4 linked regions of the Homo sapiens genome follow. The protein of the gene in region 2 interacts with the protein of the main gene of each other region in a biochemical or structural test. Each region holds a gene or a part of one and is shown on either strand. Other genes may lie near its edges.

The links. Proteins that work in one complex are often made in the same cells at the same time.
Region 1: the proteins of VTN (region 2) and TGFB2 form a complex in vitro, tested with the Homo sapiens proteins (one study listed by BioGRID).
Region 3: the proteins of VTN (region 2) and EGF form a complex in vitro, tested with the Homo sapiens proteins (one study listed by BioGRID).
Region 4: the proteins of VTN (region 2) and ITGA2B form a complex in vitro, tested with the Homo sapiens proteins (one study listed by BioGRID).

Annotation. Positions count from the first base shown.
Region 1 is NC_000001.11:218,407,836-218,411,335, forward strand, and holds part of TGFB2 (transforming growth factor beta-2 proprotein isoform 2 preproprotein), read left to right. Parts: intron 1-3,500.
Region 2 is NC_000017.11:28,367,508-28,371,522, reverse strand, and holds the start of VTN (vitronectin precursor), read left to right. Parts: upstream 1-1,215; 5' UTR 1,216-1,319; coding exon 1,320-1,383; intron 1,384-1,476; coding exon 1,477-1,596; intron 1,597-1,671; coding exon 1,672-2,016; intron 2,017-2,094; coding exon 2,095-2,234; intron 2,235-2,494; coding exon 2,495-2,651; intron 2,652-2,849; coding exon 2,850-3,002; intron 3,003-3,463; coding exon 3,464-3,808; intron 3,809-4,015. UniProt on the Homo sapiens protein: Vitronectin is a cell adhesion and spreading factor found in serum and tissues. Vitronectin interact with glycosaminoglycans and proteoglycans. Is recognized by certain members of the integrin family and serves as a cell-to-substrate adhesion molecule.
Region 3 is NC_000004.12:110,006,883-110,010,382, forward strand, and holds part of EGF (pro-epidermal growth factor isoform 1 preproprotein), read left to right. Parts: intron 1-1,269; coding exon 1,270-1,348; intron 1,349-3,500.
Region 4 is NC_000017.11:44,376,150-44,379,649, forward strand, and holds part of ITGA2B (integrin alpha-IIb preproprotein), read right to left. Parts: intron 2,562-3,500; coding exon 2,494-2,561; intron 2,361-2,493; coding exon 2,213-2,360; intron 1,642-2,212; coding exon 1,549-1,641; intron 940-1,548; coding exon 860-939; intron 240-859; coding exon 159-239; intron 36-158; coding exon 1-35. UniProt on the Homo sapiens protein: Integrin alpha-IIb/beta-3 is a receptor for fibronectin, fibrinogen, plasminogen, prothrombin, thrombospondin and vitronectin. It recognizes the sequence R-G-D in a wide array of ligands.

The DNA.
Region 1 (3,500 bases), on a different chromosome or scaffold from region 2:
GGATCAGCCAGAATAGAAGAATAATAAGACAAACTAGGCTAGAGGATGAAGTAATATTTGGAGGGGAAGCAAAAACTGGTTCCTATGAAAAAAAGCCAGATTAAGGGTAGCCAGATAAATTACAAGATGATTTAAACAAACAAACAAAAAACATGATTATATCTCCTTTTTCTTCTCTTTTTTACCAATTAAATCACCCTTAAATTTCCTTCTTTGCTGACGATAGCATCATAGGTTGCTCTCTTTGGCCCTACTTTAGTTACATGGCTTCAGTAAATTGGAGGCAGGGTCACCTAGGTCCTGTTACCTGTAATGGAAGCTGCTAAGTCCCTATTTTTCTGTGGCCCCTTGACCCTGTCCTCTGAGGAGTAGCCTCTGCCAGCAGGCTTGCCAATGGCTTTTTTCCTCCCAGGGCCCATCCCATCTCCAGGAAAGGGTGTTTCTCTTGAGGCTGGCAACTTAGAGGACCTTAGTGAGTTCTTGGTAGATGTGCCTCAGAGGTTTCTGAAGCACCGGCTGCTCCATGACGCAAGTGACATGATGTGCATGGCTTAGAGTCCCACGCTTGAAAGAGGAACGGCCCAAGATGGAAGCTTTTAGTTTGGAGAAGCATGGGCACGTTCACTGTCACTATACACGGGCATCTGGAAGAAGAAGATTCTAGCAGAAAAATATAAAATAATAGCAATTTTTTTATCTTTCTGGGGCTCAGCTATACAACTCCTGAAGCACAGACAAGGTCCAGAGAGCAAGTCAAAGAGATCCTTGAACACCCGAAGAGAAGACAACTCACACACACTTTTGATGGATCAGAAAGGCAGCCTCTTGTCTTTTATTGCTTCAACTAGTTTGACTATCTGTAGGGCCAGAAGAAATTAGAAGCACTGAATTAAAAGAGGAGGGCTAGAGGAGGACACCGTGACATCAACAGCAGGTCCTTTAGACCAGCAGTCCCCAGCCTTTTTGGCACCAGGGACCAGTTTTGTGGAATACAATTTTTCCACAGAGCATTACTTTTATTGTGCACTTTATTTCATTGTAATATATAATGAAATAATTATACAACTCACCATAATATAGAATCAGTGGGAGCGCTGAGCTTGTTTTCCTGCAACTATATATGGTCCCATCTGGCAGTGATGGGAGACAGTGTCCGATCATCAGGCATTTGATTATCATAAGGAGCGTGCAACCTAGATCCCTAGCACGTGCAGTTCACAATAGGGTTCTTGCTCCTTTGAGAATCTAATGCCGCCGCTAATCTGACAGGAGGTGGAGCTCAGGCAGTACTGCAAGCAATGGGGAGTGGCTGTAAACACAGATGAAGCTTTGCTTGCTTGCCTGCTGCTCACCTCCTGCTGTGCGGCCCGGCTCCTGATGGGCCATGGACCTGTACCGTCCAGGTTGGGGACTTCTGCTTTAGACTAAAGATTTTTACCACTGTATCACAGTAACGCTATCTCAGATAATCAGACCACAGAAGCAATGCCTGTTGTGGACAAGTTTTCTGAATCTTACCCTGTTTATAGTTAACCCACTCTTTATCTCTTTGGCTTCCTGTCTGGCTTCTGACTTTTGCTTCTGGCCTCTTTATTTGGAGTCCTATTTTTAGTATGGTGTTCTCCAACTTTCCTTTTGTCTCCGGCTGCCATTTGGAGGTCTTTGTAGTCTTTGGTAATAAACTCCCATCTCTAGTCCTATTACAGGAATTGATGCCGATGGTAATAACCTTGAATTATGAAGATGAGGCTAAATTATAGTCAGGAAACTGAACACATGCAATAAATTTTACAGAGTTTCACATCCAAAATTGCTGAAATATTATTTTGGAAAAAAAAAACAGATTTGATGCTTAAATGGGCAGATCTTCAGCTATTTGGAAAGCTCAGCTCTTCAGAAGAACAAAACCTTTGAAGTTCTTGGATACCCTTTGATTACTGTACTACTTGACACACAATTGGCATCCTAATCCCTAGAGGAAAACAGGGTGACTATGAAAAGGTTCTCAGGTCGTTTACATGGTTGTTTGGATTATTTATTAGGACTCTTCAGGACACTGATGTTCAGTAGGAGGAGAGTATGTATGTGTGTACATGTGTGCACACGTGCCTGTGAACTTACATGTGAGCATAGGCACTCCACCAGGTTTGGAATCCCTGGGGGAGCTTTTACGAAGACTAACCACAGTTTCCTTCAAGGGGATTCTGATTTTCCCTGGAAAGGAAAATGAGAGTTGCCTCGGCACAGATGTTGGTTTCAAAGAGCTCTCCTGGTGACTCACATGTGTGATTGTTCAGATTTGGATCTTCCAATTGGAATTCGCAGATTTAAAATATAGCCCAAGAGTTTTGAGTCATTCTGTCTCATAAAAATGCCGCCAGGTATTCTTTTTAGAGTCACAATATGAGGCTGGATGGACGTAGGATAACAATTCTATACATGAGTTCAGGGTTTGTCTTGTCCAGAGCTGCGAAGGTCTATTGTTTCTCTCCACCTGGGATAGTTAGGAAACCCATGCTTCTGTTGAAGTCACTCTGAGCTTGTTTAAACCTGAAAGCTTGTGAACTTACGATTTTCATTACCCTCCCCTCTCTACAGAACAGTGTGTCAGAATATTAATGAATGATAGGAAAATAAAATCTTTCTTTCCTGCTTTCTCTAACCTCTTTCACGTTAACAAACTCTAAATAGCATCTACTGGTGTGATCAAGATAGGCTTCCCATGTATACCAATAATGGAGGGAATATGAGAGGGATAAAGTGTCTGAAAGATGAAGGGAAAGAGGAGAAAACAAAGATGAAAAACAACTGTTTTTAGATAGTAACGATCTTTGCCATATTTTTAAAGCTTTATGCCAAAGGCAGCCTTTATTGCGATATGTTCAGACAAAACTCCAGTGCTCTAGGAATGCATTCAAACCCATGATAGTTGTTATAGCTCTCAGCCCATTTGTAAATTTGAACACACCTTTCTTTGATTAAGTTTCCCCTGTATGTATGATTAAAATCATGACCAGAAGTATGAGGTAGAGGGAAAGAAAATAGGAAGGAGAATTCTCTTCAAGTTGAACATCTTCTATATGGGCAAGAACACCTGCTGTCTTGGAGTTGGATAAATCCCCATTTTACACATGAAGAAATGCTTGGGGAACTTAATGACATATCTAAGGGTACCCATAACTTCATGGCCCTAAACAATCCTTTGGGACCACCAAAGAATACTTATATTTAAATTTGCTAACCTCAGAGGACTTGGAGCTCTCCAGTATTTCTAGTTTCTTCTCACCAACTCACACCCTTTCAATAGTCATTTCTCATTTAAAACCTTACCACCTCCAGAATAGTATGATTCATACCACTGTCTGGGTTATCTATTTGCTGCACAACAAGCTTCAAAATGTTGTGGCCTCAAATAATAATCATTTTGTTATACTTCACAAGTTTTTGTGGGTCAGAAATTTCATCAGAGCTTGGCTGGATATTGTCTTGCTCCATGTGGC
Region 2 (4,015 bases):
CCACCCCCAAGCCGTCCCCAGCCACGCCCACGCCCCTGGCCAGCCTTCCCTAGCCCCTCAGTCAGTCGCAGCCACCTCCCCCTGCGCTGGACTTGGAGGAAGGGGGTGGAGAATGAGAGGACGCTCTCCGTTCTCCGCCCCGCCTCCCCGCCCCACGTGACATCGGTACGTGGGAGCAACACCGCTGGATGCCCCCTCCCTACTAAATGGTTAAAACAATCATCATAACTCTTAAGGCCCTTTTATGGCTGTTTCTTAGCGAAACCTCACAACATGCCTATGGGGTGGGAATTGATGTTCCATTCCACAGCTGACTCCACTGAAGCCCATGAGGAAGAAATTGGCCCAAATCACAGTCCCCTCTGATTACAGAACAGAAAAAGTCAGCTAAAATCTCAGGATCACTTTTTTCAGGTGATGGGAGGATTTCAGAAGTTCTGTGGACACCTGAAATTGGGCACAAAATCAGGTGTTTCATGCCAGTGGGCATTTTCCAGGTAGAGGGATCATATTTCTCTCGAGAGTCTAAAAGTGTGTTGAACAAGCCCACTCTTTACAGATGGGGAGACTGAGCCTGGGGACAGGGAGTGGCCTGCTCAGAAAAGACTCAGAAATTAAATCCAGTCCAGTGGGTTGATATTTACCCAAATTTCCAGCCTGGGGAGATTGATGCACCCAAGAGAAGAACCCAGAAATGAAACTTTGTTCTTTTATGCTAAAAAATAAAATTCCCCAGAGTGCTTACAATCTCTCCTCCCACTCCCTTTTTCCTGCCCTAAATAAATAATGGCGAATGAGCACCCAGCCAGGGATGTGTCTGATCAAACAATCATGGATCAATAGCTATGTTTGGAGAAGGAATTTGTGGCTGCTCCAGCTACTGGGCATTTTGTCTGGTCCAGTTCATGTAATCTCCCAACACCCCATGAAGCAAGGCTTTGTTAATCCTATTTTACTGAAAATGAACTAAGACTCAGAGAGATAAAGCTGTTGCCCAATGAGCCTTCTTTCTGCCCTCCAGATCCACGGTGCTAATTCCCCTTCCGATGACCTAATGATTCTGAGCTTGGCAAAGGTCTTATCTCCCAGCTCGCCCAGGCCCAGTGTTCCAGGAATGTGACCTTTGCTGCAGCAGCCGCTGGAGGGGGCAGAGGGGATGGGCTGGAGGTTGAGCAAACAGAGCAGCAGAAAAGGCAGTTCCTCTTCTCCAGTGCCCTCCTTCCCTGTCTCTGCCTCTCCCTCCCTTCCTCAGGCATCAGAGCGGAGACTTCAGGGAGACCAGAGCCCAGCTTGCCAGGCACTGAGCTAGAAGCCCTGCCATGGCACCCCTGAGACCCCTTCTCATACTGGCCCTGCTGGCATGGGTTGCTCTGGCTGACCAAGGTACAGGGGAGTGTTGGTGGCCATCTGGGTCAATGTAGGGAGGGCGAGGGTGGTCTGGGCTTGGTGGCACCGACTGACACTCCTTCCTCATAGAGTCATGCAAGGGCCGCTGCACTGAGGGCTTCAACGTGGACAAGAAGTGCCAGTGTGACGAGCTCTGCTCTTACTACCAGAGCTGCTGCACAGACTATACGGCTGAGTGCAAGCCCCAAGGTGTGTTCAGAGCCCAGGTGGGTGGGCTGGGGTGCCCCCTGCTGCTGGAGACTCACTACCATCCACTCTCTGCAGTGACTCGCGGGGATGTGTTCACTATGCCGGAGGATGAGTACACGGTCTATGACGATGGCGAGGAGAAAAACAATGCCACTGTCCATGAACAGGTGGGGGGCCCCTCCCTGACCTCTGACCTCCAGGCCCAGTCCAAAGGGAATCCTGAGCAGACACCTGTTCTGAAACCTGAGGAAGAGGCCCCTGCGCCTGAGGTGGGCGCCTCTAAGCCTGAGGGGATAGACTCAAGGCCTGAGACCCTTCATCCAGGGAGACCTCAGCCCCCAGCAGAGGAGGAGCTGTGCAGTGGGAAGCCCTTCGACGCCTTCACCGACCTCAAGAACGGTTCCCTCTTTGCCTTCCGAGGTGAATCCAGGGCAGGTACTGGGGATGCGGGTCTGCCCCAGGAGCGTCCCTGCTCTCACACCATCTCCTCCACTCTAGGGCAGTACTGCTATGAACTGGACGAAAAGGCAGTGAGGCCTGGGTACCCCAAGCTCATCCGAGATGTCTGGGGCATCGAGGGCCCCATCGATGCCGCCTTCACCCGCATCAACTGTCAGGGGAAGACCTACCTCTTCAAGGTGCCAGGGGCTGTGGGCCAGGGTAGAAAGCATCTAGGGAGGGTTTGAGAGCTATTGCTCCCAGGGACAGGGTGGACAGGGAAGCTGGACCCAGGGCCCTGCAGGACCTGGTGGGAGCTCTGTGAGCACAGGGCAGCCCCAAGACTCCAGGTCCTGGGCAGTGAACCTGGACCTGGGAACGGCTGCCTTAGGGCAAGGGACTCTGCCTCTGTGCCCAGCCAGCGGCCTCCATACCCCTTTTCACTTTCCCCACCTCTTAGGGTAGTCAGTACTGGCGCTTTGAGGATGGTGTCCTGGACCCTGATTACCCCCGAAATATCTCTGACGGCTTCGATGGCATCCCGGACAACGTGGATGCAGCCTTGGCCCTCCCTGCCCATAGCTACAGTGGCCGGGAGCGGGTCTACTTCTTCAAGGGTACTCAGGGGGTGGTGGGAGACTGAGCAGGCAGTGGAGCAGTCTTGGATTCCTTTCACATTTCACTGGGGACAGGCCTCAGCATGTGCCCACCCCTGACCCCCACCTCATGCTGGGAGATCCTAACTTCAACAGCCTCTGGGATCTCCAGTCTTGCCCTGGCCCAGCCCTCCTAATGCCCACCACCCTGCTCCTCAGGGAAACAGTACTGGGAGTACCAGTTCCAGCACCAGCCCAGTCAGGAGGAGTGTGAAGGCAGCTCCCTGTCGGCTGTGTTTGAACACTTTGCCATGATGCAGCGGGACAGCTGGGAGGACATCTTCGAGCTTCTCTTCTGGGGCAGAACCTCTGGTATGGAGAGAGGGCAAGTCTTGCTTCTCCCTCAAAAGGGCTGAAACCCCTTGGTATTGGTAGAGCCAGGCCGGCTGGAGGGGGCTGTGGTTGTGGAGCTATCGATCAAAGTCTGTTTGCTCAGGCCAGACTTTGCTTCTGTTGACCTTTTGGGGAAAGCTCAGCTCTACCTGGACCCCACACCTTGGACTTTGCCTAGCACAGCTGAGAGCACAGCCAGCAGAGGGAGGGGCTGTGGCTGAGGAGTTTAGGGGGCCTGGGGGGGTGGGGTCGAGACACCAGTGATATGGTGGAGGGAAAGCACAGGGGGAAGGGAATTGGACTGAGAGTCAAAGGCCTGGCTCTGCCATTCGCTGCTGTGTGTCTTTGGGCAAGGTGCAGCAGATGAACTCTAATGGCCCCGCTGGAAGGGGCAAGATTCGGACCCCCAAGACCTCTCATTCACCCCTTCCCTGCCACAGCTGGTACCAGACAGCCCCAGTTCATTAGCCGGGACTGGCACGGTGTGCCAGGGCAAGTGGACGCAGCCATGGCTGGCCGCATCTACATCTCAGGCATGGCACCCCGCCCCTCCTTGGCCAAGAAACAAAGGTTTAGGCATCGCAACCGCAAAGGCTACCGTTCACAACGAGGCCACAGCCGTGGCCGCAACCAGAACTCCCGCCGGCCATCCCGCGCCACGTGGCTGTCCTTGTTCTCCAGTGAGGAGAGCAACTTGGGAGCCAACAACTATGATGACTACAGGATGGACTGGCTTGTGCCTGCCACCTGTGAACCCATCCAGAGTGTCTTCTTCTTCTCTGGAGGTAGGAGCCGCTGCCACCCCTGAAGCTGGTCTAGCTTGGGTTTTCCTTGCTGTCCCTGGTGCACAAGGGCTGAACGCAGCCTGCAAGTAGTGACCACAGAAAGCCAGGCCAGAAGTCCTTAGCTGCATCATGGATGTTCACTTTCCCTTCTGGGAGAGACCCTAGACTTCTCAAGGGAAGAGTGGGCAGGGCCAGGCTGGGCCTCAC
Region 3 (3,500 bases), on a different chromosome or scaffold from region 2:
AGAAGAAAGAGCAGAAACAAATGTAGTTCTATCAGCTCCTTTCCCCACCTCAGCCCAGAATTTCGGGACCTATGTTCTTCTGACAGAGAGGCACGAGGTTAGAAAATTTGCAGTGCAGAGGGTTGGATTTTGACTTGAGACAGAAATAATGGGCATGTGTCTTTAAACAGTGGGTTGCGTGTTGATTTTGCAGTGTGTTGCTGCAGGAGATCATCAATGAGGAGGAGATGAAGCATGATTTGTATTATAAGAAAATGAAAATACATGTTCTGTGGATTCACACTTCCCTTACCAACATTTCCCTGCCTTCTGCCTAATTGACCCCAGTCATCATCCCTTTCTACACCTTTCTCAAAGGAAAATATGGGCAAAGAGATTGTTTTCTACTCCTCTTTCTGTTGTTTCTGAGTTGTGTGCTCCTTTCTGTGGAGCGCCCATTTCTGAACCAATGAAGCGTGATCGGCCAAAACCTTGGGGCAGTCCTTGCACTAGTTACTGATTGACAAGGAAGGACTTCACCAAATGATGTCCTTTGTCCTGTTGTATGGGGTCACTTCTTTTCTTTCCTTGTAGCATGGATCTGTTTTAATATCTAATCTATCTAGAGTGAATGTGAGCCAGTGAACTCTGGTCAGCCTGCATTGCAAGTGCCCAATCAATTTTTGATAATACAAATAATGACAAAAGTAATCATTTTGTTGACTGAAGAGAAATGTTGTTTTCTGTTCCTTCCTATTAAAATTCTAGGTCCCTAGGCTGTTCAACCAGCTTGCAAAATTGTCATTGCACTGGTAATTATTACTACCTTTAATGGCCCCAAATTACTCAGAACTTGGTAGCATGTTTAAATGAGTGTTATTAATGTGTGTGTGCGTGTGTGTGTATGAAAAGTTGTAGCACACACATATATTAGATATTATTTGCCTGGCCTATGGGCAGTTCTTAGAATACTTATGGATTCTTGGATTGCTTATGGTAAATCAGTGGCTCCAGGGATCCGTGACCTAAAAGCTGAGATTCCATAATTAGAATAGATTCTTCAGTTAACATATTGGTGTGCCTAGTTGCTTTAAGACAAAGTAACACAAGGCTCCTCACTGAATGTTGAATCTCTCTTTAGATAGAAAGACTAACTTCACAGGGCCTTTCTTCTGACTTTCACTTTCCATAGGATGAACATCGTAAAGCCATAGACTTTGATTCAATGTACGTTGAGATAATTTGTGAATTTTAACAATATCCTCTCTCCCTCCTTTTTGTTGTCTGCAGTTTGTGGTTATAAAAGAACACCAAGACCTCAAGAATGGGGGTCAACCAGTGGCTGGTGAGGATGGCCAGGCAGCAGATGGTCAGTTTTTATCCCTGGCTCCTGGTGAATGGTTATTTTTACTTAGATCCTGACTGTTTTTCAATGAAAAGTCTCATTTAACCACACACACACACACAAACAAAATAACTAAATTGTATAAGCTATGTGAATAGCTGGGCTGTATTGAAATGCCATGGACCTGATTTGCACTGGAGTTCTATCTTATATGAGGTTACCACGTTCACTCAAAACTCTAGTCACAGGGCAGCCCGTGTTCTTGCACTTTGAGCAAGAACACAATGGATGACTCCTTGATTTGAATTGAGTTTTGGGGTCATTCTTAAGGTCCAGGATCTATACTGGTAGCTGTAGGTATAGTCCCAGTTAAGTTGTAAATGGCTCCAAGAAAACATGTTCCATGTTCAGCCCATCTAGTGGGAAGTGTTTCTGTAAATTTAAGTTGATCTGAGGATTGTCCTGGGGATTTCAGAGTATTCAGGTCTTATCAGGGGCATGACCTTAGCCAGACGCCTGGCTGTCTGTGAAGTCCAGCCAAGCCACTTGTGGAGAGACCATAAAATCAACCCAGGTTCTCAGGAACTCAGTCTACTTCAGATAGAAATGAACTCAGATACCCTTAAGAGTTGTATTATGATCAGCCTTTTGGTTTTGGGTCTCAGGTTGAGTTTTGTTTCACAGGCCAGAGGACATTGTTTCACAGGCCTTTGTGTCGTGAGCCTTTGGAAAGGTTTAGAGAAACTTTTAGCCAACAAAAACAGCTCCTCTGCTAATGAAAGGAGCTAATGAAATATCAACTCCAATTGAATTTTCTATATTTTTCCTTCTTCAATGTGCTTATTATCATAACCTCCTCCTCAGATTTCTTTCTGGAAAGAACATAGGCTTCTTGTTTTGGAAAACTCACTCTAAATTCCCTTCTCATACCTATGTTGCCATGAAACCCCAAATACTGAATTCAGTACAACTTTATTACCTAATTTGAAGAAGGCCTGGATATTTAAGGTACACTTAAAAATTGAATATGAAAACTACAATAAATAGTATAGTATTTTATATGGATCATTACTTTCCCCTGATAATGAAAAAATTCAGCATTTTCAAAAATTTGCTTCAGTGCTTATTGTTATTGGTAGCACTATTAAAAAGTAATGGAATATTTGTAGTTACTACTTTTCCTTGAGCAGCTAAAAGTGCATAATTCTTACAATGGTAACCCACTATAGAGGCACATATAATGTAATTTTGCAAGCTAATAGCACAACGATTTTACAGGAATTTGGTTAAACTTAGAAAAGAACTAAGGACTCATTACAGTTAGCTGAGTACTCAGGAATATATTAGAATGTCTCTTTTGCTGTTGTTTTTTTCCCCCCGCACTGTACTGCAAACAATTTGACCCATTCTCTGTGGGCCACTCATATAACTATCTCCCAGCATGAGTGATCACATCCCCAATCATGTCCAGCTGTCTCATAAATGCCTGGGGTGAAAATGCGCATAGAGATTGGGGTGGGGGGAGATTGAGTGAGGAATGAAATAAAAGATCAAGTTTGGCTCTGAGCCAGTCTCTTCTCTGCTCCTGGAAAACTCATTACAACACAATACTAGTGTAGTTCCATAAAACCATCTTCACTGAGCTCAGCTGACATCAGTTGACACAGGTTAAGTGCAGAGTACATGCTAGGGGCAGCTGACTATGCCAGGGGAAAAGAAAAGAAATACACCTAAAATCTGAATTCAGACCAGGCACAGTGGCTCACACCTGTAATCCGAGCACTTTGGGAGGCCAAGGTGGGCAGATCATTTGAGGTCAGGAGTTTGAGACCAGCCTGTCTCTACCAAATGAGACCAGCCTGTCTCTATGGTGGAACGCTGTCTCTACCAAAAAGTACAAAAATTAGCCTGGCATGCTGGTGCACACCTGTAGTCCCAGCTACTCAGGAGGCTGAGGTAGGAGGATCCCTTGAGCCTGGGAGATGGAGGTTGCAGTGAGCTGAGATCTCAACACTGCACTCCAGTGAGACTCCATCTCAAAACAAAGATAGAGACTCCATCTCAAAAACAAAAAACAAAAAACCTGAGCTCTATCTACTCTCAAGTCATTTGTGGTCCAGATGGGGAGACAGAAGTACACAGTAAAAGCTAAAGAGCAATGTGTCAGGTTCTTTAA
Region 4 (3,500 bases), about 16 Mb from region 2:
CTGCTGCCACCACCAGGGAGGCTGGAAAGGAGTTCCTGCAGGTGCCCAAGACCCCCAGAGAGAGTGTGATGCCCTGATTGGCCTGTGAGGTTTCCCCAGCGCCCCCTGGAGTTTAGAGCCCTGAATGCCATCTCCCTTCTCCACCCCTGGCCTCTCACCCTCGCAGCTCCACTTGGGCCTCTGCCCGGACCGGCACGTCCAGCAGCACAATCTTGCTGTTTGGATTCTGGCTGTTCTTGCTAGAGGGGAGGGGATGAGGAGAAACAGGGCCAGGGACACCAGCCCAGTGACTTTCTGGGGGTGAGGCCAGAATTTTAGAGAGTTCAGAGAGAGCTAATTATACAAAGAGCATGCCACACTGAAGTTAGACCTGGGAAAGAACTTCCTCTAGGGCTCCAAGACTCAGACATAAATCTCTGAGGAAGAAAGGGAACCAGGCTTCTTCAAAGACCTTTTTTTTTTTCTTTTGAGATAGAATCTCGCACTGTCGCCCAGGCTGGAAGGCTGGAGTGCAGTGGCCCAATCTCAGCTCACTGCAACCTCCACCTCCCAGGTTCGGTTCAAGCTATTCTCCTGCCTCAGCCTCCCGAGTAGCTGGGATTGTAGGTGCGCACCACCATGCCCAGCTAATTTTTATATTTTTAGTAGAGATGGGGTTTCACCATGTTGGCCAGGCTGGTCTCCAACTCCTGACCTCCAGTGATCCTTCTGCCTTGGCCTCGCAACGTGCTGGGATTACAGGTGTGAGCCACTGCGCCTGGCCTCGAAAGACCCTTCTGTATGGAAGGGACCTGAGGGGCTCTGCACGGGGGTCAGACGGGGGAAGGGTGGTGGGTAGGCACGCTCGCCAGGTCAGTACCTCCGTATCTGCAGCTGGAAGGACACAGACTCCCCAGCCTCTTCCAGATTCCCCACGCTCACCAACATCGCGATTCCTATCTGGGAGATGAGGAGGGCCAAGGTCACTGCCCAAGTGCCCCACTTAGGACAGCCCTGCCCTGAATGTGGCCTCCAGTCTTCACCCTCCAAGATCACCACTATTCTTTTTCTTTTTTTTTTTTTCCGAGACGGAGTCTCACTCTGTCACCCAGGCTGGAGTGCAGTGGCATGATCTCGGCTCACTGCAACCTCCACCTCCCAGGTTCAAGTGATTTTTCTGCCTCAACCTCCCGAGTAGCTCTGACTATAGGCGTGCGCCACCATGCCCGGGTAATTTTTGTATTTTTAGTAGAGACGGGGTTTTGCTATGTTGGCCAGGCTGGTCTTGAACTCCTGACCTCGTGATCCACCCGTCTCGGCCTCCCAGAGTGCTGGGATTACAGGCGTGAGCCACCGCACCAGGCCACCATTATTATTTCTATTTTACCTGGAAGCCCACTGGGTAAAGGGGCTCAGAGAGGGAAAGTCACTCACCCAAGGACATGTGGCAAGGGAGTGTGAGGACCAAGATTCTGGCCCAGAACTATGTGGCTCTAAAACCTCACCCCTAAAATCTGGTTATTCATGAGCCCCTGGTGGAGACCCGGTACCACGACCCAGCAGCCTCACCTGGGCGTTCTTCTTCATGGGGTTGCCCAGCTCACACAGCACCACCCTGGTCTCATTCTCCTTCTTCTGATTACAGATGAGTCTCTCAAAGCCCTTCAGGAAGGCAGTTCCAAGAAAGAAATTACAGAGCATCATATATATATATTTAAGCTCCCTTGGAAGGTCTGGAAAGATTTGTGTGCCAAGGTAGGGAGGGGGGGGTTTCTTGGGGTGGGGTCTCAAGGGACTGTCACATGCTAGTGTGTGTATTGCTGTAGCACTACTACTTTTTAGGCATTTTCATTTTGGAAATAAAAAACACAAAACATTAGAGTATGACCCCCATTATTATAAACTATATTAACAACATAAAAAATAAATATATACTTATGTGAGTGTGAGTCAATATTGAAAAAAAGACTGGAAGGAAATCCACCAAATGTTAACAGAGGTTCCTGTTAACATTTGGTTCCTAAACCTTTTTTGTTTTTCTGGTTTTTGTAATAGAGTTTTGGAATTCTGTGCCATTAGCAAGTATTCCTCCTCCAAATTAAAAAAAAAATAAAAAATTACATCTTTGACAGCAAAGCAGAAGAGAAGAGGGACTCTCAGGGAGGGAGATGAGAGAGCCAAGGCTCCAGTGCCTCCCAGGTCCCGGGTACTGTTCCCAGGGTGGGGGCCATACCTCGACATTGCTTAGGGCCCGCATGTAGTGGGCGCCCTGGGGCAGGTGCACGGCCAGCTCTGCTTCATAGGCCCCCTCGCCCTCGTTGGCTGCGTCCATCTGCAGCTCCAGGACATTATCTGCCCCAACTAGGAGCGGGGAGCCCGTCCTGTGGGGAAAGAGGAGTGAAGCCAGGGAGCCTGGGTCTGGGCCCAGGATGTGGGAAAAGAGGGGACTAAGGTGTGGAGCAGGTATGATAGGCAGAAAGGGCCAGGGTCGGGCAGAATGGGAGGCCTCCTCACACGCTGGCAGTGAGCTGAAGCTGGGGCACACATACGTCATCTTCCCCACAGTCCAGGACGATTCGTGTCTAGAGGGGCACATTGGGGTGTGCGGGTAAGTTGGGGATGTGTGAGGTTTAGGGATTACATCAGGGTTAGGAAAACAGTGGGCTTGGGGTTCACATAGGGGCTTAGGGAGTAAGAAGATCTGAGGACGAAAAGGAGTTTGTAGATGGTATCGGGGCTCGGGTTTATTTGGAGGTTTGGGACAATGTCAGGGTTTGTCAATTTACATCAGAGCTTAGGGGATACTGGGATTTTCAGGTGTTTATTTTATTTTTGGAGACGGAGTCTCGCTCTGTCGTCCAGGCTGGAGTGCAGTGGCACTATCTCGGCTCACTGCAAGCTCCGCCCCCCGGGGTTCACGCCATTCTCCTGCCTCAGCCTCCCAAGTAGCTGGGACTACAGGTACCCGCCACCACGCCCAGCTAATTTTTTTTTTTTTTTTGTATTTTTAGTAGACGGGGTTTCACTGTGTTAGCCAGGATGGTCTTGATCTCCTGACCTCGTGATCCACCCGCCTTGGCCTCCCAAAGTGCTGGGATTACAGGCGTGAGCCACTGCGCCTGGCTTTTTTTTTTTTTTTTGAGACAGAGTCTTGCTCTGTCACCCAGGCTGGAGTGCTGTGGCACACTCTTGGCTCACTGCAACCTCTGCCTCCTGGGTTCAAGTGATTCTCCTGCTTCAGCCTCCCGAGTAGCTGGAATTACAGGCATGCGTCACCACACCCGGCTAATTTTTTTTGTATTTTTAGTAGAGATGGGTTTTCACCATGTTGGCCAGGTTGGTCTCTAACTCCTGACCTCAGGCAATCTGCCTGCCTCGGTCTCCCAAAGTGCTGGGATTACAGGTGTGAGCCACCATGACTGGCTGGATTTTGAGGTTTTCATTAGGGTTTGGAATGACATCAAGGTTTTGGGGTTCACATTGTGACTTGGCACTAACCCTAATCCTGATTTGCTATCAGG